4 linked regions of the Homo sapiens genome follow. The protein of the gene in region 1 purifies or fractionates together with the protein of each later gene. This does not show direct contact. Each region holds a gene or a part of one and is shown on either strand. Other genes may lie near its edges. The genes, in order: ADGRG5, GJA1, ACVR1B and LCLAT1.

What was found.
Region 2: the proteins of ADGRG5 (region 1) and GJA1 purify together in Homo sapiens (co-immunoprecipitation; 3 studies listed by BioGRID and IntAct, with this or other methods). This does not show direct contact.
Region 3: the proteins of ADGRG5 (region 1) and ACVR1B purify together in Homo sapiens (co-immunoprecipitation; 3 studies listed by BioGRID and IntAct, with this or other methods). This does not show direct contact.
Region 4: the proteins of ADGRG5 (region 1) and LCLAT1 purify together in Homo sapiens (co-immunoprecipitation; 3 studies listed by BioGRID and IntAct, with this or other methods). This does not show direct contact.

What each region holds. Positions count from the first base shown.
Region 1 is NC_000016.10:57,566,600-57,573,642, forward strand, and holds part of ADGRG5 (adhesion G-protein coupled receptor G5 isoform 1 precursor), read left to right. Parts: coding exon 1-152; exon of another isoform or gene 153-870; coding exon 871-992; exon of another isoform or gene 993-1,250; intron 1,251-1,256; coding exon 1,257-1,525; intron 1,526-3,818; coding exon 3,819-3,936; exon of another isoform or gene 3,937-4,034; intron 4,035-4,570; exon of another isoform or gene 4,571-4,722; intron 4,723-7,043. UniProt on the Homo sapiens protein: Orphan adhesion G-protein coupled receptor (aGPCR). Ligand binding causes a conformation change that triggers signaling via guanine nucleotide-binding proteins (G proteins) and modulates the activity of downstream effectors, such as adenylate cyclase.
Region 2 is NC_000006.12:121,445,646-121,450,227, reverse strand, and holds the end of GJA1 (gap junction alpha-1 protein), read right to left. Parts: intron 3,397-4,582; 5' UTR 3,381-3,396; coding exon 2,232-3,380; 3' UTR 501-2,231; downstream 1-500. UniProt on the Homo sapiens protein: Gap junction protein that acts as a regulator of bladder capacity. A gap junction consists of a cluster of closely packed pairs of transmembrane channels, the connexons, through which materials of low MW diffuse from one cell to a neighboring cell.
Region 3 is NC_000012.12:51,947,042-51,954,702, reverse strand, and holds the start of ACVR1B (activin receptor type-1B isoform a precursor), read right to left. Parts: upstream 3,005-7,661; 5' UTR 2,960-3,004; coding exon 2,869-2,959; intron 2,009-2,868; exon of another isoform or gene 1,932-2,008; intron 1,320-1,931; exon of another isoform or gene 1,204-1,319; intron 1-1,203. UniProt on the Homo sapiens protein: Transmembrane serine/threonine kinase activin type-1 receptor forming an activin receptor complex with activin receptor type-2 (ACVR2A or ACVR2B).
Region 4 is NC_000002.12:30,520,226-30,527,268, reverse strand, and holds part of LCLAT1 (lysocardiolipin acyltransferase 1), read right to left. Parts: intron 1,683-7,043; coding exon of another isoform or gene 1,679-1,682; coding exon 1,514-1,678; intron 1-1,513. UniProt on the Homo sapiens protein: Exhibits acyl-CoA:lysocardiolipin acyltransferase (ALCAT) activity; catalyzes the reacylation of lyso-cardiolipin to cardiolipin (CL), a key step in CL remodeling.

The sequences.
Region 1 (7,043 bases):
AAGGCTACACCCTGACCTGTGTCTTCTGGAAGGAGGGAGCCAGGAAACAGCCCTGGGGGGGCTGGAGCCCTGAGGGCTGTCGTACAGAGCAGCCCTCCCACTCTCAGGTGCTCTGCCGCTGCAACCACCTCACCTACTTTGCTGTTCTCATGGTATGTATGCATCCTGAGTGGGGCTCAGAGCTACAGAGGGCCCTGTGTCTGTGGCAGAGGAGCAAGGCAAAAGCTGGTGCAAGGGACAGAAAGTCCAACTGAAATGGGCTTAAGCAAAAAACAAAAAAAACTTTATGGACTCATGTTTCTGGAAAGGCTGGGTTAGGCTTCAGGCATGGCTTGATCCACGGGCTGATCACTAAGATCACTAAGATAGCACTCTATCTTTGTCCCTCAACTGTGCTTGCTCTGTGCTGGCTTAGCCCTCAAATAGGATCTCCTTATGAGATAATAATATAGCTGGCAGCAGTTCCAGGCTCATGCCCTGCTAGCTTTCAGGCCAGTGGAATAAAATCTTCTTTTACCCAGTTCTGCCAGCCATGTGCTCATCCCTGACCCAATCGCTATAGGCAGAAGGAGGGAGGGCCCTGCTTGACCAGGCCTGGCACCCCTTTCTGCACAAAGAGGGCAAAGTGGTGGAACCCCACAGGTGCATAGGGAGTGGGAGAAGGGAGGCACTCATAGAAGAAGAGGGAGATGGGAGATGTGGAGGGGGCAAAACTGACTGTATCTGCCATGGCCTTGTTCAAGCCAGGTCCATGGCTAGGCTTGTGGGGAAGGGGACTTGGAGAGGAGGCCTCAGGAGGTCCCTCTGACTGAGGCTGGGAGGAAGGGCGATACTATGCTTCTGGCCTCCAGCCCCTCTTCCCTCCTGCAGCAACTCTCCCCAGCCCTGGTCCCTGCAGAGTTGCTGGCACCTCTTACGTACATCTCCCTCGTGGGCTGCAGCATCTCCATCGTGGCCTCGCTGATCACAGTCCTGCTGCACTTCCATTTCAGGTATTCCGCTGCCACAGTGCTGGGCCTGCCCTGCACTGTGGCACATCACGCTTCCTTGTGTCCCATTTAGTCCACTAGAACTGGGTGTGCTTCTCCAGAGGGTGGGGACCAGGAGGCGGGAGACCAGCCTTGTGGTGCGACTGCTGTGGGATCCCTGCCCCTTCTTCGCCTCAGTTTCCCTGTCGGCATGCACCTATGCACCCAGTGGGTAGTGCTGCCTGGGTGATGTCCCTGGGCCATGGAGGACCATTCTCTCACCTGCAGGAAGCAGAGTGACTCCTTAACACGCATCCACATGAACCTGCATGCCTCCGTGCTGCTCCTGAACATCGCCTTCCTGCTGAGCCCCGCATTCGCAATGTCTCCTGTGCCCGGGTCAGCATGCACGGCTCTGGCCGCTGCCCTGCACTACGCGCTGCTCAGCTGCCTCACCTGGATGGCCATCGAGGGCTTCAACCTCTACCTCCTCCTCGGGCGTGTCTACAACATCTACATCCGCAGATATGTGTTCAAGCTTGGTGTGCTAGGCTGGGGTAAGCACATCATCTCTCCTCGCCTCCTCAGACTTCCAGGTGGGCAGGGTATTGATCCCCTTTAGTCCTTTCTTTCCCCTCCTCCTCATCGTCATAGTGGCCATTACATGACCACCAGCTGTGAACTCTGTCTACACCCACCTCTACTTTCTATGTTACTAATTTTATCACCTCTTCCACCTCCATCATCATCATCGTCACCTCCTCCACCACCATTATCACCTCCTCCACCTTCATTATCACCATCACCTCCTCCACCTCCTCCACCACCATTATCACCTCCTCCACCTTCATTATCACCATCACCTCCTCCACCTCCATCACCACCATCATCATCTCATCCACCTCTGTTATCGCCATCACCTCCTCCACCTTCATCACCACCATCGTCACCTCCTCCACGTACATCACCACCTTCTTCACCACCATGATCACCTCCTCCACCTCCATCACCACCTCCTCCACCATCATCACCATCATCATCACCTCCTCCACCTCCACCACCTCTTCCACCTCCTTCACCACCACCATCATCTCCTTCACCTCCACCACCACCTCCTCCACCTCCATCACCTCCATCATCACCTCCTCAACCTCCATCATCACCTCTTCCACCTCCATCACCTCCATCACCACCACCTCCACCTCTGTCACCTCCATCACTACCTCCTCCACCTCCATCACCTCCATCACCACCTCCTCCACCTCCATCACCTCCATCACCACCTCCTCCACCATCATCACCTCCATCACCACCTCCTCCACCTCTATCACCTCCGTGATCACCTCCTCCACCTCCGTCATCACCATCATCACCTGCTCCATCTCCTCCACCTCTATCACCACCATCATCACCTCCTCCACCTTCATCATCACCATCACCTCCTCCACCTCCATCACCACCATCACCATCTCCTCCACCTCCGTTATCGCCATCACCTCCTCCACCTTCATCACCACCATCATCACCTCCTCCACGTACATCACCACCTTCTTCACCACCATGATCACCTCCTCCACCTCCATCACCACCTCCTCCACCTTCATCACCATCGTCATCACCTCCTCCACCTCCACCACCTCCTCCACTTCCTTCACCACCACCATCATCTCCTTCACCTCCACCACCACCTCCTCCACCTCCATCACCTCCATCATCACCTCCTCCACCTCCATCATCATCACCTCCACCTCCATCATCTCCATCACCACCACCTCCACCTCCATCACCTCCATCACCACCTCCTCCACCTCCATCAACTCCATCACCACCTCCTCCACCTCTATCACCTCCATGATCACCTCCTCCACTTCCGTCATCACTATCATCACCTGCTCCATCTCCTCCACCTCTATCACCACCATCATCACCTCCTCCACCTCCATCATCACCATCACTTCCTCCATCTCCTCCACCTCTATCATCACCATTATCACCTCCTCTACCTCCATCATCACCATCGCCTCCTCCATCTCCTCCACCTCTATCATCGCCATCATCACCTCCTCCACCTTCATCATCACCATCATCACCTCCTCCATCTCCTCCACCTCTGTCACCACCATCATCACCTCCTCCACCTCTATCACCATCGTCATCACATCCTCCATCTCCTCCACCTCTGTCATCACCATCGTCACCTCCTCCACCTCCATCATCACCATCACCTCCTCCATCTCCTCCACCTCTATCATCATCATTACCTCCTCCACGTCTATCATCACCGTCACCTCCTCCATCTTCTCCACCTCTGTCATCACCATCATCTCCTCCACCTGCACTATCACCATCATCACCTCCATCTCCTCCACCTCCATCAGCACCATCATCACCTCCTCTACCTCCATTACCGCCTTCATTTTCTCTACCTCCTTCACCACCATCACCACCTACTCCACCTCCATCTCCACCATCATCACTTCCTCCACCTTCTCTATCTCCAGCAGCACCATCACTGGTACCTTCATCACCGTCCTTGCCCCTTTCTTGCTTATTTCTATTTCCTCAGCAGTTCCCCAGTCCTCCCTCCCATTTGCTCCCCACCACCACCTTCCCAGTGTGACCACTCCTCCCTCCACCACTGTTCCATCGTAGAGCCGTCACTAACATCATCTTGGAGGAGAGCTTCCTCCAAACCACCAGGCTCATTGCTCTGAAGTTGGGGGCTCACAACAGTCTCCTCTCAGTTGTCCCTTGACCAGTGAAATTCTGTGTCAGCAGCCCCAGGGACCGCCCCAGGGACCGAGGGTCAGCCCTCTCCCACATCTCCTGAGCCTTTGTCCCACCCCTCAGGGGCCCCAGCCCTCCTGGTGCTGCTTTCCCTCTCTGTCAAGAGCTCGGTATACGGACCCTGCACAATCCCCGTCTTCGACAGCTGGGAGAATGGCACAGGCTTCCAGAACATGTCCATGTGAGTGCCCTCAGGGCTGCAGTGGGCTCCCTGGCTCTGGCAGAAGGGCCACATGGGCCTGGGGCTCCAAATGGAATATCCTGTAGGCAAAGCACTGGCTGTGGGGCAGAGAGGGAGCTGGGGCTTAGACAGGGGAGTTTGCAGGGGGCTCCACCACATCCCTTCCATGGATCCAGGTCTCCTGCAGAGGCAGCCTTGTGTTCTATGCTGGTGAAGTCTACGAAGCCAGCGTCTGCTCGCCAACCTGCCAGGGCAGCCGGGCCTCCCGCCTCCTCTGTCCTGCCCTGCCCTCCAGTGCCCAGGCCCTGAGGGTCTGGCTCAGCCTGCACTTGACTCTGTTCCCCTGCAGACCACCTTGCTGCACCTACCCAGGCTCCAACTCCTCCCGACCTGCCCTGGGCACTGCCAGGCCTCTCAAGTCCTCCTAGTCGGACAAGAGTGCTGTGGGGGCTGGGCTTGGGGGAGACAAAGAGAGGCAGCGAGGTGGGCCTTTAGGGGCCGGGGGACACGCTGCTGCTTTTTTTTTAATAGCCCCTCCCTGCAGGCGAGGACGTTAAGCTTTTTATTATTATGCAACATTTCTAATAGCCAGACATAGACTAGCCTAAGGAACCCCCGCGCGCCCATCACTCACTTGCAGTTGGCTGTGGAACCTTTTTCCTTCTTGGCTGATGCAGGCTCAGGATGGGGGCTGATTCTGTGGCAGGCCTTGGGTATCAGCTGGCTTCGTTTTCACAAGGGCAAGGGCCGGGTCCTGTTGCCAGCCCTATTTTACAGTTAGGGCACCTGAGAAACAGGCAGCTTAAGAACTCTACCTGAGGAGCCCTAGCCAGTCAGTGGCAGAGCTGGGGCTTGGTCTCCGGCAGGCTGGTCCAGAGCCTGGCCCCCAGCCCCTGAAGCAGGGCCGGGGGACTGCGTGCTACATAGGTGGGGCTGATCCCTCTCACATTGAGGCTCGGGTGTATCAGAGGACATGTGACTTCAATTTACATGAATTGTTCTCTGCAATCTCCATGACAACCCATAAGGCAAGTACATAATCATCCCCAACCTACAGATGAGGAAATAGAGGCTCTGGCCTCAGTTTACATACTCTCTGAAGATGTATTTTCTTTTTTTTCTTTTTTTTTTTTTTTTGAGATGGAGTTTCGCTCTTGTTGCCCAGGCTGGAGTGCAATGGTGTGATCTCGGCTCACTGCAACCTCTGCCTCCTGGGTTCAAGCGATTCTCCTGTGAGTAGCTGGGATTACAGGCGCGTGCCACCACGCTCAGTTAATTTTTGTATTTTTAGTAGAGACAGAGTTTCAGCATGTTGGCCAGACTGGTCTCAACTTCTGACCTCAGGTGATCCGTCTGCCTTGACCTCCCAAAGTGCTGGGATTACAGGCGTGAACACTATGCCCAGCCTATTTTCTTATATAATAATATGATGAGGACAAAGGAGCTTTAGTGACACGTCCACAGGACCCACTAATGCACAGATGTTAGAGAACACCCACCTACGAGCCAGCTTCTCCCTGGGTCTTCCTCACTCTGCCCTCTCCTCTCAGGAAACAATTACCTTGGGGTTTGTGACTTTTTTTTTTTTTAATTTAAAACATCTCTTACTATGTATATACACATTCCTAAACCCAAACATCAGTTAAAAACCAAAAACAGGCCAGGCGTGGTGGCTCACGCCTGTAATCCCAGCACTTTGAGAGGCTGAGGTAGGCAGATCATGAGGTCAGGAGATCAAGACCATCCTGGCTAACACAGTGAAACCCCGTCTCTATTAAAAATACAAAAAATTAGCTGGGCGTGGTGGCAGGCACCTGTAGTCCCAGTTACTCGGGAGGCTGAGGCAGGAGAATGGCGTGAACCTGGGAGGTGGAGCTTGCAGTGAGCTGAGATCGCCACTGCACTCCAGCCTGGGCGACAGCGAGACTCTGACTCAAACAAACAAACAAATAAAAAACACATCCTGGCCAACATGGAGAAATCCCATCTTTACTAAAAATACAAAAATTAGCCAGACATGGTAGCGGGTGCCTGTAATCCCAGCTACTCAGGAGGCTGAGTCAGGAGAATCGCTTGAACCCGGGAGGTGGAGATTGCAGTGAGCCGAGATTGCGGCACTGCACTCCAGCCTGGAGACAGAGCGAGACTCCGTCTCAAAAAACAAAACAAAACAAATACAACCCTTGAAAATCATTCAGATGTCCACTGACGGGATGCTGGATGAATGGACTGCAGTAGAGCTGCCCCCGTGGGGATATTCCCTAGCGGTGAAAGTGAGTGGTCGCCTACCACACTCATCAACTTGGAGGAATCCCAAAATAATGTCCTGGGACCCTTGTGACTGTAGGGGCAGGAGCCACAAAGTGAACCTCAGCAGGGGATTGTGACAGTTAGGGGCTCAGGCTCTGGGCCTGGGGCTTCAGGATCCAGCTTTGCCTCTAACTGGACTGTGTTCCTGAGCTAGAGCCTGAGTTTCCTCATCTGCAGGATGAGGACGATTATGTACTTGCCTTATGGGTTGTCATGGGGATTGCAGGGGACAAGTCACATAAAGCACATCGTTACTGGTGGAGGGTGTCCAGGTTCTTGGCGTCTTGAACCAAGAATTGGACAAGCCTGGGCATGGTGGCTCGTGCCTGTAATCCCAGGACTTTGGAAGGCCGAGGCAGGTGGATCAACTGAGGTCAGGAGTTCGAGATCAACCTGGACAACACGGTGAAACCCTGTCTTTACTAAAAATACACAAAAATTAGCTGGGCGTGGTGTCAGGATTCTGTAGTTCCAGCTACTCAGGAGGCTGAGAGAGGAGAATTGCTTGAACCTGGGAGGCGGAGGTTGCAGTGAGCCAAGATCACATCACTGCACTCCAGCCTGGTGACAGAGACTCCCTCTCAAAAAAAAAAAAAAAAAAAGGAAAGAGTGAGGCATGAATTAAGCAAGAAAAGCAGAGATTGATTGAAAATGAAAGTACACGCTACAGTGTGGGAGTGGGCCAGAGCATAGGGCCTCAAGAGCCCTATTACAGAATTTGTGGAGATTTAAATATGCTCTAGAGGTTTCCATTGGTTACTTGATGTACACCCTCTGTAAATGAGGAGGATGAAGTA
Region 2 (4,582 bases), on another chromosome or scaffold:
TTCAACACTTTATCTTCCTTTTGGTTCAATAAATATCCAAAAATGTTTACAATTTATGTTGCACTGAACAGAGCTAATGATAAATATTGTCCCTGAAAACATGACTGTTATTTGCTGAAGTTCTGATAACCAATAGAAATGTGTTTAAATAATCTCAAATAGATGCCGTCAATGAGTTTTAAATATAGGCCAGGTGCGGTGGCTCACCCCTGTAATCCCAACACTTTGGGAGGCTGAGGTGGGCGGATCACGAGGTCAGGAGTTCCAGACCAGCCTGGCCAACATGGTGAAACCCCATCTCTACTAAAAATACAAAAATTAGCCAGGTGCGGTGGCGGTGCCTGTAATCCCAGCTATTCGGGAGGGTGAGGCAGGAGAATTGCTTGAACCCGGGAGGCAAGGGTTGCAGTGAGACGAGATCGCGCCACTGCACTCCAGCCTGGGTGACAGAGCAAGACTCCATCTCGGCAGGGGAAACAAATCACACGGAATATAGAAGCTATGTTTATACTAAATTAAAACTTTATTGAATAAAGAACACTCTCCAGAACACATGATCTGATGGACTAGGTCTACATTACATGCAATGAAGCTGAACATGACCGTAGTTTAACATGGAATGTCAAACAAATTAGTAATTTTCATTGTACAAAACTGTTTATGTAGCTGACATGCATGCAAGAAGAAAAGTGTCATACTCAGCATTTTCACCAATCTTCTGTGATGAGTTTTAAAAAAGGCATTTGGAGAAACTGGTAGATGTCTTCAACATATAGTTCAAATAAATTAGTTGTATGTGTACTACTGAATCCTCTTTCAACCTCTCTTGCATTCCAAATAAAATCTTAGTGCAAACATCAAAGTTGCTGGTCACTCCAAAAGACTGCTAAACTCATAATAGAATACAAGTTCTGAATTACTGTGTATTAAGTAGGAAAACCCAAGAATACCAGTTACTGCAAAATTCATTTAGGCACATTTAATAGTCCACTCTAAGCATTTTTTCTAAGTCTCTCACATTAATGACTAAAGCCTGTTTACAGTACTAAAATTCTATCATTCAAGCATCAATGATTACATTTCAGAAAAAGGAAATTCATTTCAGTAATAGCATTACTGCTATATCCTAAAAAAAGGAGAGAAAATAAAGAATCATAATTAACAAAACCAGTATCCATAATAGGATACACAGGGAAAAACATTTTAGGAGAAAAAAAAAGTGTGCTTTACTTGCCACAGCAGGAATTATATAATGTAAACACCATATTGGCCCACACCACAAAAATCCATGAGAAAGGTTCAAATTTGAACACCATATGTGCATTATTTTCAAATCTGTGTTTGTGAGTTTATACTGTATCTGCTTGTACCAATACATGACAAACAAAACAAACTCTTCGACACACATATAAGTGATTGTTAAATATTAAGCATGGCTTGATTCCCTGACTTTAGCTCAAAAAAAAAATGTTAAGTGACATCCCAACTGTCTTAAAAATGTTTACAGAAACCATTAAATGAATGTGAGTAGTAGCTGAGGAATGATGAAAAAGTGATGGTAATGATATTGTGCAAGTGGATGGAAAAAGAATATACGTATTTGCAAATGCATGGAAAATCTTATTCTGTGGGCCTTGTCTGAATTTTAAACTGATACCAAGAATAAAAAAATATAGTAGCACAAGTCCATTGACACCTGGAGGGTCAGGCCTAGAAAGCTTACCTTCAAAGTGCAAATTTTAACAATGGAATGTTTTAGCAGGGACTTAAGGACAATCCTCTGTCTTTTTCTTGTTGAAAAGACCTAAGATGTTCAGGAAGTATTTATTCCTGGCCAGAATTATTTCAGTTTCTTGGTAAAACAAAAATATTTAGCCACAATTACCACCCGCTCATTCACATACACAGAACCATTCTTAGGGGTGTTTGCGGGGAGAAAAAGCCCTTATCTATGTATCACCTAATGGAACTCTTATTTATAATCTAAGTTCTTTGAATCCACTACTTTAAATACCAACATGCACCTCTCTTATCCCCTCCCTCTCCACCCATCTACCCCATACACCCCCAGTGAACCTAGGTATTCTAATGTCTTTGTGTTTTCTAAGCCTCATGAATAAGGCTGTTGAGTACCACCTCCACCGGATCAAAATTAACACCTGGTGCACTTTCTACAGCACCTTTTTTCTTCTCCACAATTGAGTGGAATCTTGATGCTTTCAAGCCTGTATCTAGATCTCCAGGTCATCAGGCCGAGGTCTGCTGCTGGCACGACTGCTGGCTCTGCTTGAAGGTCGCTGGTCCACAATGGCTAGTGGCTGTAATTCATGTCCAGCAGCTAGTTTTTTAGAATTCTGGTTATCATCGGGGAAATCAAAAGGCTGTGCATGGGAGTTAGAGATGGTGCTTCCCGCCTGCCCCATTCGATTTTGTTCTGCACTGTAATTAGCCCAGTTTTGCTCACTTGCTTGCTTGTTGTAATTGCGGCAAGAAGAATTGTTTCTGTCGCCAGTAACCAGCTTGTACCCAGGAGGAGACATAGGCGAGAGGGGAGCGGTTGGTGAGGAGCAGCCATTGAAATAAGCATATTTTTGAGACCCACAGTCTTTGGCAGGGCTCAGCGCACCACTGGTCGCATGGTAAGGGTCGCTCTTTCCCTTAACCCGATCCTTAACGCCCTTGAAGAAAACATAGAAGAGTTCAATGATATTCAAGGCCAGGGACACCAAGGACACCACCAGCATGAAGATGATGAAGATGGTTTTCTCCGTGGGGCGAGAGAGGAAACAGTCCACCTGATGTGGGCAGGGATCTCTTTTGCAAGTGTAAACAGCACTCAAGCTGAATCCATAGATGTACCACTGGATCAGCAAGAAGGCCACCTCAAAGATAGACTTGAAGAGGATACTGATGATGTAGGTTCGCAGCAACCCCCCTCGCATTTTCACCTTACCATGCTCTTCAATACCGTACTTGAACTTCTTTATCTCAATCTGCTTCAAGTGCATGTCCACATTGACACCATCAGTTTGGGCAACCTTGAGTTCTTCCTCTTTCTTGTTCAGTTTCTCTTCCTTTCGCATCACATAGAACACATGAGCCAGGTACAAGAGTGTGGGTACAGACACAAATATGATCTGCAGGACCCAGAAGCGCACATGAGAGATTGGGAAAGACTTGTCATAGCAGACATTTTCACAACCAGGTTGCTGAGTGTTACAACGAAAGGCAGACTGCTCATCTCCCCAGGCTGACTCAACCGCTGTCCCCAGCAGCAGGATTCGGAAAATGAAAAGTACTGACAGCCACACCTTCCCTCCAGCAGTTGAGTAGGCTTGAACCTTGTCAAGGAGTTTGCCTAAGGCGCTCCAGTCACCCATGTTGCCTGGGCACCACCTGAAAGAAACAAAGAGACAATTCAAGGATCACAGATTGCAAATTACTAGTTTAACATTTAGTACCTTTCAGGTGATAGTCAAAATACTACCAACGGTTTCACGTATTTCTAACATTCTTTCACAAAAAACCAAGTGCAAACTCTTCCTGTCCCATTTTTGCCAACGAAGAAAAGATCTAACAAGTGTTTTGTTTTGTTTGTTGAGACAAAGTAAGTCTTAGAAGCAACAGATGATGAGTTGCAGTCTTTAACCTGGGAAGGTGTATTGCTTGCTCAACCACTGCCTTGCTGTGTGACTTGAGAAGCCACCTGTGCTAAGCCTCTGCTCCTTTTATTTGTCTGATAAATGAGGACAGTTTTTGCCTGGTAGATCTGTGTTTGCTAAGCAAAATCCTGATGTGTGTTATTCAAAGCATAGGTATCAAGAATCCAGGTAAGAATACCTATAAACACACATCCATAACCTTCTTTCCAAAACCTTAATGCTATTATATATCATTTTATTACTAATTTCACTCTGAAAGATTTTTTTTTTAAGATGGTGTTTCCCTCTTGTTGCCCAGGCTGGAGTGCAATGGCACAATCTCAGCTCACCACAACTTCCGCCTCTTAGGTTCCAGCGATTCTCCTGCCTCAGCCTCCTAAGTAGCTGGGATTACAGGCATGTGCCATCACGCCTGGCTAATTTTGTATTTTTAGTAGAGATGAGGTTTCTCCATGTTGCTCAGGCTGGTCTCGAACTCCTGACCTCAGGTGATCCATCTACCTCAGCCTCCCAAAGTGCTGGGATTACAGGTGTGAGCCACCACGCCTGGCCTCTGGAAGATTTTTCAATGGTATATCAAGTGTAATTTGTGCATACCCTATATTATTGTCATTTACACTTTTCTGTTTCTTTTTTTAGAGATAGGATTTCACTATGTTGCCCAGGCCCCTGGGCTCAAGAAATCCTCCTGCCTTAGCCTCCCAAGCAATGGTGACTATTTTTTTCTTAAGCAGTGACTTATGTAGCTCAGAAGTCAGCCTTCTGTCCAGAGAAAAAGTAGGCTGTATGGAAATATACTCTTTTGCTACAATGTGTCATTATATGTAGTAACCTACTTTGAAAAACAAAGACTAAATACACATCACACTTCATGTAAAAAGTTCATTTTGTCTCAATACTACTCACAGCCTTATTAAAAA
Region 3 (7,661 bases), on another chromosome or scaffold:
CTTGTTCAAGGACAACTTGTAAGGCAGCTAAGTTCTAGGGCTGAAAACCAGCCTCCTCCCTCCATCTGGCTTTAACCTTTAACCAGAGTAGCCATTTTAATATGTTTTATCACATCTGTTCCAGGAGCTGTTTAAACAAAACTAATCAGAGGTCTCTACAAGACTGCACTTCCACTGTACTTAAAATCCATGTCCACTCAACAAAATTACAAGGCTTGGCTTGAAATTAGATTTTTAGTCCGCTCACAAAATTTCAAAATGTTCCTATGAGAATGTCAAATATCTCTCTTGTTGCTTTTGTCTTGAGAAATGAATGTCATGTTCTCCTGCTACTAACTCAATTTTACATTTTTAAATGTGAAAATTCCAAAGCCAGGCCTTAAAACATGTACACCTATCAAACGGATGCTATTTCTAACTGAAACTCATTCTCCTTATCACTGGCCTTTTACTAAGTCCTAGTTAATTCATTAATTAATAGAAACACCTATCCCTTACTGCCCCTCACATCAAGTCCAAGTATCAGGCATCAGAGCTGTCTGGCTCTGTCACTCCTCCAGCCCACGTAGGGGAGCACTATATAGGAAATGCAGGGGAGGGGAAAAAAATCAACTTCTTGTTATCCCACAGCCTCTATTTTCCCAGAACTGACGTTTTACTTTAAGCCCTTTGCAGCAGTGGTCTCCATAGCATACACTATTGGCAACTAGACGTGTCCTGGAAAAAACTGTAGTGTCTGGCCAAGAAGTTTAAAGGCCCTGGAGAATGTTTGCTGGACACACAACCTAATTTCCAATTTACCAAAAAAAGAAACGAACTCCCTATTTTACTCACCCACCTTAACCCCCACAAACATCCATTTTAGGAAGGTTACAAAAAAATGAACTCTGCCCCATTCAGAACCACTTGGATTATCAAACATTCTTAACTAGGCTCACAACCAGAAAAACCCCACAAACACTACATCAAATCAGCAGGGAAATGACTGTTAAAAATCCTGGATATATTAGGGGCAGGATAAAAATTCCTATATGAGGATTTAAAGATTTATACATACACACATAAAATGACAAACCTAGAGGTTCAATCTCCCTTTTTTTTTTTTTTTACTACCCAGTAGAGAACATTATGTTACACATTCCAAAAACATGGCCCTTAATAAGGCCCGACGAACATCCTTATTCATGCAAATCATTATCTCACCACAAATGTCAAGCTCTGTTCATACACCTTCACCATGTTTCTCAAACCCCACAGCACAGATACCTAAGCCACAGAGCAGTGAGGCCGAAGAACACACACGAGGTGCTTAGGAGAAGCATTAGCCCGTGAACAAAGACCCCGCTGCACAGGCTCCACCACTGGGAACAAATATCAAAGCCGGAGATAATGAACTTGTTTTTGAGATTCCAAAGTGGCATGGTGTCTTTTCTTGACTGTCTGGTTTATTAAAGACGACTGAACCCACCTGAGAATCATTATTTTTAGTGTAAGAGAAGAGAGCCACAGAACACACTTTATCTCCCATTGCTGGAAGGTTAGGGGCTGCTGAGAAGTCAAAGCATCAGGCTTTGTACGTCAGGAGCGAATACAATCCTGATCATCTCTCCCAGATCCATCTGTGGGTCAATAATCGCTTCAATATAACTGCCAAATATAACCTTCATCTGCTACCCCAAGGCCAAAACACATTCGCCAAGACTCTCTTAAATGAAATATTTTAGGGTTTCATCTGCTCTTCTCAGCCCCCAAAGCCTCAAAAACAACACAGCCAGCGAAGTGTCCCGCAAAAAGGTACCCGCTTCTACAGAGAGGAGAGTGGGGGGGTGGTATAAGGCGAGCCGCAGACTGTGGGGATTGGGAGGTAAGGGGTGTGTGAGGGTGGGCGGGCTGGGAAGAGGCATCGTGTAGGAAGGTAAATAAGTACTGACCAAGGGCCGGGAATACAGTCCAGTGGTGGGATCTTTAAATAATCTTGGGGGTTTGGAGACAGGTTCCAGGATTTCACCTGAAAGGCATCCACAAAGTGATTAACTGAATGGGCCCCCCGGGGTAGGGTGGGGGAGGCGAGGAGGAAAGCAAATACACCTAGATTCACATCAACCCTTGGGGAACTCGGTTCCATAGGGTTAGGGATTCCAAAGCCAGGCTCCAAAAAGGTTTAGGGGCCTGTTCGTCCCACTTCCTCCAAATAGCCTCCACGGGGCATGAGTGCCGGAGGGCGGAGGGGGGATTGCCCCACTGAACTCAAGGGATTGAGTGAAGGGGAAATGTGACTCCCTTTCCCAGAACATTAGGGAGGCAGTGGAGGGAGGGGAAGAAACACGCCAAGTGCAGGACCTGAAGGAAAGGTTAGAGACCCCTTCCCCTACAGTCTGAGGTGCGCGGACTCTCAACATCAGGTTCCCTCGGAGAGGCTAAGACCCCACCGCCCGAACCCCACAGTCTTGGCGGGAGAAAGACGCCCCCCAGGAGCACCTGGAGGGAGGGAAGAAAGCCCCCCGCCCCTGGACACGGTGAAGGGCAGAAACCACGGACCTCCAAATCTTGGAGCTGGAGGCTCAGACTCCCCTCTCTGGAACACGAGGGCGCTGGGAGCGCGACCCCTGAGAACTGCCCGAATCCAGTTCCGCCTGGAACAGGGCTCGGGTCCCCAGGGGCCCGGCGTGAGCTCCGTCGCCGCCGGGCGGCTGCGCCTCGGAGATCGGGGAAGCTGACTGGGGGTCACCCCGACTCCTCTGCGCCCCCCACCCGGCCATATTGTGCTCGTGGGGAGGGGGCGCGCTGTAGTCCAGCGGCCGCGGCTCGAGGCCTCGCCCTTGCCGGGCCCTCTCCATCCCGGCCCCCGCCCCCCGTCCCAGGACTCACCCTGGACCCCCCGGGGCCCGGACCCGCCGCTGCCGGCGAGCAGGAGGACAACAAGGGGGAAGAAGGAGGAGGCTCCGGCCGACTCCGCCATAGTAACCACCGCCGCCGCCGCCGCCGCCGCAGCCCAGCAGCGCCCAGCGCGCGCGCGCGCGCCCCCGGCGCCTCCCCTCCTCCCGCGGCCCGGCTCCCGCCTCCCTCTCCTCCGCCCGGCGCCTGCACGTGCGCTCCCGGCGGAGCCGGCGCCGCGGCCGCCGCGCGCGCCCCCGAAGGGCGGGGCCGGGGCGCGCGCGGGCGCCCGCCTTAAAGGGGAGTGTCCCTGTTAAAGGGGTGGGCGGGGCTCACGCCTCGGCCAACTTCGCGGATCGGTGCCGAGCCCGGCGCGGAGGAGGCCGGAGCCGAACGTGCAGTCTCCTCCCTCTCCTGCACCCCACGCAGTGCAGAATTATCTTATCAGAGTCGATCCCCCGCCCCCGTCGAATATTCTACGAATCCCGTGCGTGTTCCAGTTCCTCCATCCCTGCGCCTAGCCTCAAGCCCCCAGCGCGTCCCCTGGGATCATCGCCGCGGTCTCCTAACTGGTTTCCCTGCCTCGCCTCGCCCCCTGCCATCCTCTGGACGCGGCAGCCTGTGTGATGGAATCGCGGCACGCGCCTTTTCAGAACATAGCAAAGCTCTTTATTGATGACAGTATGGGTGAGGGTGCCGTGTGAGGCACTCTGATTGGGCTGGTAGGTAGAACCCTTTTGGTAAACAATTGGCATTATGCATCAAATGCCTTAAAATCTTCATATCCATTTACCCAGTATTGTCCCCTGTCCTCAAGAAATAATAAGAGGACAGATGTTTATGAAAAATGTTAACTGTATATTTATCATTGTAAAAAAGGTAGAAACTAAGTAGACAATAATAGAAAATGTTAAATTATGGCCCATCCATATGATGGAACATTATTTAGTAATTTAAAATCCTGTTTACAAAAACTATTGACATGAGAAAATGCTTACAAGATAATGTTAAATTAAAAAAGCAAAATGCAACACTGTTTACAGTATTATTCAAATTGTACTGATAATATGTGTTTATAGGAAAAAAAGACTGGAAGGATATTTACCCAATAGTAACAGTAGTTATTGCCATAATTTTTTTACTTTTAACATTTCAATAATTTCTAAATATTTTTCAAATAAATGTTACTTTCAAATCTAGAAGAAATGCTTAAGAAAGTAAACAAATCACTCCGTATCTTTCTGAAAAGAGGTCAGTTTCTTTAGCTTGAGAAAGAACTTGATATAAAGGAAAGGGCAGAATTTTTGCAGCCAGAGAATTCTGGATCTGAATTCTGCTTCCTACTAACTAGCTGTGAAAACTTGGGCAAGGTTTGAACCTCTCTAAGCACAGCTTCACCATCTGAGATCTAGGGGTGGAAAGGATGGCCAAGAGATAGGGAGAACAGTTGCTTAAATGGAATTCTCACCTTCTAAGTTTCACCAACCTGAAGAACTCCCATCGTCATATCCGGAAAAAATAAAGCTGAAGACACACTCGCCAGACACAGTGTACACACAATCACATAAAGTCATGGGGAGGCATTGTCTACAAGTTGGTCAGTGTAGCTGGATGAGTAAATAACTTATTCTCCTCTCCCTCATCTCCCCCAAATAGGCACACCCCACCCAGTCCGTCTAAGTGGTTTCCAATCCATGCTCTATCCACCAAGCTGTGGTGCACACAGTGCTAGGTTACTGTGTTAGTTTCCTACTACCAAACTGGGTAGCTTAAAATACAAATGTATTCTCTCACTGTTCTGGAGGCTAGAAATCTGAAACCATGGTGTTGGCAGGGCCATGTGCTCTCTGAAGGCTCTAGGGAAGAATCCTTCCTTGCCTCTTCTAGCTTCTGGTGGTTCCCAGGATCCTTGGTGTTGTTTGGTTTGCGGAAGCATAACCCCATGTCTTCACATGGTTATCTTCCCTCTGCATCTACATCTCTGTCCACATTCCTCTCTTCTTATAAGGATACCAGTCATTGGATTAGGGCCCACCCTAATCCAGTATGAGTGCAAATGATCTTAATTGGTTACATCTGCTGCTAAGATCCTCGTTCCAAGTAAGATTACATTCGCAGGTTCCTGGTAGACACGAATTTTGGGTGGACACTATTCAACCCAGTACAGTCACCAACCCCTGCAGTTAAGAAGGGAAAGCCAACCCCTCAGGAGCACATATCTGAAGCCAGGGGGGAGGGAGGTATCTTTCCTTATTTCTTGCTAAGTGCTGCCACTGTGGCTTCGAGGCCAGGGGTCCCAGAGGGGACCTGTGGTTGCTTCACTCCTAGACAGTAAAGTCAGCCACACAGCTAAATATACAGATCAGGGAACCAGAATGCTGGCTCCACAGACCAAATGCCACCTCCGTCAGCTCCATCAGCTCACTTGACAGCATTGAACTTTGGGCAAGATACTTTACCTCCCTAAACCTCAATTTACTCATCTTGTAAAATGGAGCTAATAATAGTTCTATGTCATACAGATATTGTTAGTATTGATAAAATATGGTAAAGCATTTAGCATAATCTCTGACACATAGGAAGTGATCTAAAAAGAATAGCTATTATCATCATTATGAGTTGACCTTCACTACAATCCTAGGAAGTGGTTGAGGCATGTCAGAGTGTGCCCCGATGAAGTGACTGAGACTTAGAGAAGGTAAGCGATTTGCCAAGGCTCACATACAATCCATCATTAAAGCCACAGCCTACTGGTCCTGTGCTTTCTTCAACACCATAGCATCTCCTGCTTTTCTAGGTACTGGTCTTCAGGACCCAGCTGAAGGTGGAAAATGAGGTGGAGCAGGGGAGGGGTTAATCATATGCCTCACACCCCATTTGTGAGAGTTTGGGGCATCTCCAAACTAGAGCTTTCCTAGGTGATGTGTCTACCTTCCTTTTAGGTCCCGCGCTACATAGAGACTGCCTAATCCCTACCTGTGCCCTTCGCTCCTTCCCACAGCCTGGCCCAAGGATGCTTCCTGCTAGTTCTCCTCACCATCCCTGAAGGCCCCGGTAAGTGTCCATTTTCGTAAGCCTTCTTTTTTTTCTTTTTCTTTTTCTTTTTTTTTCTTTTTTGAGACGGTGTCTCGCTCTGTCTCCCAGGCTGGAGTACAGTGGCATGATCTCGGCTCACTGCAACCTCCGCCTCCTGGGTTCAAGCGATTCTTCTGCCTCAGCCTCCCAAGTAGCTGGGACTACAGGCATGCGCCACCATGCCTGGCTAATTTTTGTATTTTTAGTAGAGACAGGGTTTCACCACATTGGTCAGGCTGGTCTCGAACTCCTGATCTCGTAATCTGCCTGCCTCGGCCTCCCAAAGTGTTGGGATTACAGGCGTGAGCCACCGTGCCTGGCCTTGTAAACCGTCTTAATCTTAGGGCTGGACCCACATCACAGTCTATGAACTTCTTTTCCCCTCTGCCCTGTCTCTTTGTCAGGAGAGTCCCCAGAGCTAGCAGGAGCCACTTCTCCAGGAAAAAGTCTTACTCCTTAGTCCCACTGACTAGAGTGACAACTCAGTGTGACAATTGCCACATTGGTCGCAACGCACAGAGACACCACTACCTAGGGGATCATTTGCCTTGGTGAGCAGCAGGGTCATTCATCCCAAGAAGGCAATAGTTCATCTTCACTCATCCATTCCACAAGCACTAAGCACCTACAGTACACCAGGCACAACATATAGACATGGATAAGTCATAGTCCTCGCCTTCATGGAACTTAAAATCTAATACAGAAAAGCATGAGAAAAAGAGCAACAACGGGTTATCTCTGCGAGGACACAAGCCTGTAAAGAGCCAATGAGGGCCACTCAGGGGACATGAATGATTCAGCTGTGAGGGGACAGGCTGAGGAGTTGAGAAAGTTTTCACGAAGAGACAGGCTACGCTGATTCTTGGAAGATCAGAGAGTCCCCCCAGATAGGCCTGTGTCAGGAGGGCAGGAGATGGCAGGAGACTGTTCTGCCTGGCATTTAGGAGAACCGTGAGCAGCCTAGCGGTACACCCAGAAGATGCAGGCTGAAGATGATGGACAGTGGAAACGTAATGTTGGTGAGCTAGGCAGACGTGGAAGTCTACTTGGAAATGGAGCACACTGGAGTGGGAGTCTAATAAGAGACCCTCTTCAGTACACTTGGAAGGGTTCTAAGTGTAAATTGATCATGTTTGTATTTTAGGAAAGGCTAAACTGATCATATTTGTAAACTGATCATATTGTGTTAGGAAGATCACTTTGCTGAACCAAGTGAATTTGAACTTTGTACAGAGGCTGGTTGGAGGAAGACAAGACTGGTTGTAAGGAAACCAAAGAGAAGGCAAAGCCCAGGCAAGATAGGAGGTGGACCTGACCCCAGGCAGCAGCAATGTGAAGGTGGAAAAGAGAAACAGATTCAAGAGTTCAAAGACGTAGAAATGACAAGATTGATTGGATACGGGAAATGAGGAAAGGGGATGGCCCCATATGACTCTAGGATAATCTTAGGTGACTAGCTGCCTGGTAGTTTCATTCAGCAGACTAGAATGGGCAGGTTTGGGAAAAAGAAAATTAGTTCCTTGGCTGGGCGCAGTGGCTCACGCCTGTAATCCCAGCACTTTGCGAGGCCAACGCAGGTGGATCACCTGAGGTCAGGAGTTCAAGACCAGCTGGCCAACATGGCAAAACCCCTAAAAATACAAAAATTAGCTGGGCATGGTGGTGGGCACCTATAATCCCAGCTACTTGGTAGGCTGAGGCAGGAGAATCAC
Region 4 (7,043 bases), on another chromosome or scaffold:
AATTTCTTTATTTTACAGATGATGAAACAAACACTAAAAATAGTTACATAAATGACATGAAAACAGTCAAATGTTTCAATAGGAAATGTCTCTGATTTTATGATGACAGCAAAATTACTTAACATACAGTTTGTAGATGACGTTTTAGAAGTATCTACTTGTGATGATTAATATTACATAAACTGAACAGTATTCTTATTTTACTTAATATATGTATATAGAGAAATACCCACCTTGTAAATAGAGAGTGATAGTGGTTAAGCAGCAACAAAAAATGAGTATTTTATGGCAAATGGTATGTTTAGGGTTGCAATGAAACACTGGGCTTCATATCTTTAAAGCTAATTTAAAAATGTAACTCTAAAAATTAATAGTCTTAGAAGTCAACTTCTGTCCTCTAAAAAAAGAAAAAGACTTTTAGTCACATGAAAGCCAGAAAAGAAATTAGTCAAGCTCTGTAAATCTACAATTAGGATAAGATATTTTAGGTAGAGGACTATTATCTCCTCAAGGACAGAGATCATATCTGTCCTGTTCATCACTGCATCCTAGCAAAATGCTAGGTACGTGGTAGACAATAAAAAATTGCTGGATGAACATTAAGAGATCCTGCCAACTACTCTTGCAATCCAATCACAAAACAAAGCATACTTATATTAAAAAAGCAAGAAGAAATTTTGCCTAAAAGACTGGCCCTGACAGAGTAAAAGGTACTAGACATCATCCAGCTGACTTAAAGGAAAATATGGCTATAATTAATAAATAGATGAGAAATCTCAAGAAAGTAACAGAACCAATAAAGAACCCAAAATAAATTCCAGAACTTACAGTATTTTAAATAAAAATTCACTAGATGAACAAAACAGCAGATTAAAGATGATAGAAGAAAGGGTCATTGAGCTTGAAAACAGATAAACAGAAATCATTCAATATGAAAAATACAGGGAAAAAATACAGGGGAAGAAAAAAGGAAGAGAGCCTTTGTGACATACGTGACAAGACAATCAATCTAACATACATATAATTGTAGTCCCAAAATGAGGAGAGAGAGAATAAGGCAGAAAAAAATGTGAAAAAAATAACAGTCTAAAATTTCCCAGTTAAAAAAATATAAAAACCAACCAACCTATCTATCTAAGAAGCCCAATGGAACACAGCAAAATACATGCAGCCCTCCACATCCCTGCGTTCAGCATTTGTGAATTCAACCAATCATGGATCAAATATATTCATGGGAAAAAAGGATGGCTAAGCCTGTACTGAGGATGCACAGATTTTTTTTCCCTGTCATTCCCTAAGCAATACAATTCCCTAACAATAACAACTATTTACATAGCATTTACGTTGTAGTCGGTATTATAAGCAATCTAGAGATTATTTAAAGCATACAGAAGGATGTGCCTAGGATATGTGCAAATACTGTAGGGACTTGAACATCCATGGATTTAGGTATCTATCAGGGGTGGGGAGCACTCTAGTACAAGCAGACAGTCTCCTCTGGTGTGTAACTTACCACAGGTAGGGTGAGCCATGTTGCCACAAGGCGGTTGTTGATCCAGCGATACCAAGATGGGTTTACAAACATCAAAGGTAAAAAGGGACTCAGCATGAAAATGCTTCCAAAAAAGCTTCCCCAAAACAGAGTCAGTATAAAGTAAATCCCTTTCCATGACACCATGATTCTGAAAGATATAAAAAAGGATATATTTTGTTACTATACATTTAACGGCTCGAATTCAATTTCAGGATGATGGAGCATAGAATGATCACTAATTTTAGGGCTACAGAAAGGCTCTAAGAAACAATATAAGAGTCTGAATTTCAAAGAGGTGACCCTCCTACATGCTCTACTGGTCTAACAAGTTGCCAGTACATTAGAAATTGATATTCTCTGGTCGGGTGCGGCGACTCACGCTGCAATCCCAGCACTTTAGGAGGCTGAAGCAGGTGGATCACTTGAGGCCAGGAGTTCGAGACCAGCCTGGCCAACATGGTGAAACCCCATCTCTACTAAAAATACAAAACTTAGCCAGCTGCGGTAGTGTGCCTGTAATCCCAGCTACGTGGGAGGCTGAGGTAGATGTTACAGTGAGCCAAGATCGCACCACTGCACTCCAGCTGGGACGACAGAATGAGACAGTTTCAAAAAAAAAGAAACTGATACTCTCAACAGAGCAAATATCTGACCTCCAAAAAGAGTTATCTAGTTTAAGAAGCCTTTTTTTTTTAACATAAAACCATATATTTTCTTTTCTAAGGTGTTATCTAACACAAACTCATAAAATATTCCAGAGTTTTTTCCTACCCAGAAGTAGAAGCAATTGACTAAAAACTACAGATGAGTTTCCTAAGTTGAGTACAACGGTCCCCACTTTGGATCCATTCCAAGACCCCCAGTAGATGCCTGAATCACAGATAGTACTAAACCCTACATATACATTACATACATACCATGATAAAGTTTAACTTACAAATTAGGCGTGGTGAGAGATTAATAACTATTATTAATAAAGTATTAAGTAAAATAAAGGTTCCTTGAACACAAGCACTGCTATACCTCGACAGTCAATCTGATCACCGAAACTGCTATTAAGGGACTAAGAGGCAGGTAGCATAGCATATATTGTATCAATGCACTGGACAAAGGGATAATTCACGTCCTGGATGCGACGAGAGAGGCATGGCATCAGATTTCATCCTGCTACTCAGAATGGCACACAAATTTAAAACCCATCAGTTGTTTATTTCTGGAATTTTCCATATAACATTCAAACCACAGTTGACTGTGGGTAACTCAAACCATGGAAAGCAAAACTGTGGTTAAGGAGGGGACTACTATACACCTAAAAACAATGACAAGTTAGCAGAGTACATTGAAATTTTTTAAAATCCAGAAATATTAATTCTTTATATTAGAATCTGAAAATAACATCTTGGGTACTTGGTCTTTAATTGACTCTTTATGAGTTGAAGGATTAAGTAGAACTTAGACTCTTCACTGGCTATTTCCAAAGGATTACTGTAGGGGGTCCTCATAGCCAGAACATCATACAGATGTTTTAAAATAAATGCTTGTTGGAAACACACAGTCTAAAATGAATAAACATTTGATTTTACAACCTAAACTATGTTAGAGAAAAACTGTGTTTTGCCTCAGAATAAAATTTTTAGAAACATTAAAACGATGAAAAAAAAACAGCCTTATAATCTATATAGCAAAAAGGTATCTGAGAGATCAAGACCTCTGAATATTTTAAAAGAATCACAACAGGAAACAGAATACATTTTCAAACGTCATGGTGCTTTTGAAAAATGTCAGACAGACAAACAACAAAACAGGTCAAATCCCTTAAAACACACAATCAAGACTGACTACTAAGTTTTTGTTTGTTTGTTTGTTTTGAGATTGCGTCTCACTCTGTCGCTAGGCTGAAGTACAGTGGTGCGATCTGGGCTCACTGCAAGCTCTGCCTCCCGGGTTCAAGCGATTCTCCTGCCTCAGCCTCCGGAGTAGCCAGGATTACAGACACGCGCCACCACACTCATCTGATTTTTGTATTTTTAGTAAAGACACGGTTTCACCATGTTGGCCAGGGTGGTCTGGTTCTCTTGACCTCATGATCTGCTCGCCTCAGCCTCCCAAAATGCTGGGATTACAGGCGTAAGCCACTGTGCCCAGCCGACTATTTTTAAATTTCTACTGATACTTGACAGTACGTGTACAAAATCCTTCAAAGTACAAACTGAATAAATATCAACTAAGAGCTGGCTTTTTGCTAAACTCTAGACCTAAACTTTAAAGAAGTGGGGTAACGGAGTAATAATGGTAGAGAAAAAGGCCACTGGAAAGCAGCATGCTGAACAATTCCCAGAGCTCACACATGGGGCCTAGAGTGGTCTGTGTTACCACCTATCCTCAACTTTGTTTTCTCTGAGGCTCAGGTCCTCCTCTTTGCGTTGATGACACTATAGCTAGCTTCTCCCCAGAAAAAAAAAAAAAACCTACGAACATCTTAATTTGGTATTGTTAATGCCTACTTCCTTTTATACACCCACCCCGCCCCCCAGTCCTGCAACGCTGCTGCTCTGTTTGAAACCCTGTAACTACCGTTTTCTATCTACTGTTTTTTTTTCTGCCAATTAGTGATTAGCTAGCTCTGTTTAACACTCACCCCTCAACTCCCTGCAGAGCTACACTTCACGTTGTATCCATATATAATGCTTCCCTTATCAAGGCTCTGGCATGCTTCTTCCTCACCAATTTCTGATTTGATGTGATTAACAGAAAAAAAATAAATTAGCTATCATATAATAAAATATTTTCATTATGCAGTGATGAAGCTGAGGCTCAGGAGAGTTAAGAAGACTTTCCTAAATCCACACAACAAATTAGTAGCATCAAATCTTTTCTGCTTACTGCTTCTTCTGCTATATCATGCTCTCTTTCTCCTGCGAAGGGGCCAGAAATTAGCCCTGAAATATGTCTCTAAACTCAGACTTAAGCAGGTAGAAAGGTGTGTGTCACATGAATATACTGGGATTACTCAGACCAAATCTAATCTAAAATTACTTCTATCCTACTTCTATTCCTTCCCTTTCAATCATTTGTTGATTTTCAATGATTCAATAAACATACAAAGATATCCCAATTACCGTGTGCCAGGCACTATGTTAGTCATCTGGGGATTACAACAGTGAATATGACAGAAATTGCAAAGCTCTCACAAATCTGATGGTCTCTCCATCTCTTCCTTATGAGCTCCTATGTGACTCTGCATTTAATCCAGCCCTATTCTTTATCTTCTTCCAAGTCTCAAGAGTTTGATGGACAAACTTGGTTCCAAATTATGCTAGCTATACACTTATTTGGAATAGCTAAAAAAAAAAATTTTAAAACAATAAAACCACTGACAATACCAGGAGCTGACAAGGATATGCAGCAACCAGAACTTGCAAACATTGCTGGTGGGAATGCAAAATGGGATGGCCACTTTGGAAAAGTTTGGTAGTTTCTTAAAATCCTAAATATACACTTACAATAAAACCCAGAAATTCTACTGAATATCCAAGACAAATGAAAATGTATATTCACACAAAAACCTATACGTAATTATTCACAGCAGCATTATTCATAATTACCAAAAACTGGAAACCAGCCAAATGTCAGTCAGGGAGAATGGATAAACAAAACCGTAGTACATCCACACAATGGCATACTACTCAGAATAACGACAAACTACTGATCCATGCAACATGTTGAGTTAATCTCAAATGTATTATGCTGAATGAAAGAGGCCAGACTCAAAAGATATGATTTTAAAATCTTTTACTGGATTATTTCATTTATATGACATTCCAGACAAGGCAAACCCAAAGGATAAGGAAACAGATCAGCGGTTGGCAAAGATTACAAGTAGGGAGATGGTTTGACTACAAAGAAACAACACAATATAAGTTTAGGGGGTTGGTCCAGCGGTGGCTCATGCCTGTAATCCCAGCATTTTGGGAGGCCAAGGGGAGCAGATCACGAGGTCAGGAGATCGAGACCATCCTGGCCAACATGAGGAAACCCCATCTCTACTAAAAATACAAAAATTAGCTGGGCATGGTGGCGCGTGCCTGTAATCCCAGTTACTAGGGAGGGTGAGGTAGAAGAATCGCTTGAACCTGGAGTCAGAGGTTGCAGTGAGCCAAGATGGTGCCACTGCACTCCAGCCTGGTGACAGAGTGAGACTCCCTCTCAAAAAAAAAAAAAAAAAAAAAAAAAAAAAAAAAAGAAGAAGTAGTTTAGGGGGTTGAGGAAACTGTTCTATTTCCTAGTTAGGTCACATTACAGCAAAGCTGTCCTGATCCAGACCCCAAAAGAGAGTTCTTGGATCTCGCCCAAGAAAGAATTCAGGGTGAGTCCACGGTGCAACCTGAAACCAAGTTTATTAAGAAAGTAAAGGAATAAAAGAATGGCTACTCCACAGACAGAGCAGCCCTGAGGGCTGCTGGTTGCCCATTTTTATGGTTATTTCTTGATGATATGCTAAACAAGGGATGGATTATTCATGCATTCCCTTTTTAGACCTTATAGGGTAACTTCTTGACATTGCCCTGGCATTTGTAAACTGTCATGGTGCTGGTGGAAGTGTAGCAGTGAGGACCACCAAAGGTCACTCTTGTCGCCATCTTGGTTTTGGTGGGTTTTGGCCAGCTCCTTAACTGCAACCTGTTTTATCAGCAAGGTCTTTATGACCCGAATTTTGTGGTGACCTCCTATCTCATCCTGTGACTCAGAATGCCTTAACTGTCTGAAAATGTAGCCCAGTAGGTTTCAGCCTCATTTTACCCAGCTCCTATTTAAGATGGATTTGTTCCAGTTCACACATCTCTGACAGTCACAAGACTATACACATTTGTGAAAATCCATAGAAAGTATATTTTTTAAAAAAGTGAACTTTACTGTTTGTAGATTTTTAAATAAATTTTTAAAAAATTATGCTATGTATATAAAAATCTGACAATATTTACTATTCTCTTATAATACGGGGAATTCTAATTTTCTGGATTATTTCAACTATAGTAACACCTAAAATGTATATAGCTTTTAAAATATTTCAGGCACTGTTTCATATATTTTACATGCCGACCTGTTCACCAGTCACAGCAATCTCATAATGTAGGTATTTTCATTACCTTAATTTTACATATAACGATACTGAGGCAGCAAGGGGTTAAGGAACTTACTTAAGGCTACACAGCTAGTAAATAACAAAACTGGAACTTTAAGCCAGGTAACTTGGTGTCAGAGTCCACACTCAGTCTGAAATGTTACACTACGCTTCCTTTTCAAGCCATGTATTACATCTGTAGTTAAATATACACCTATTTTTAAATAGCCTATAAAATAAAGATGTTACAATTATAAACTAAATTTTTAATACCTCATACAAAACTTATTCTGAATTTTAGAATTTATACAAACTTAGTGAGATAGCCTTATGTCTTTCTTATCTTACTGTTACTGGCAGGTGTTTGTTCTTAGAACTCCCAAGATG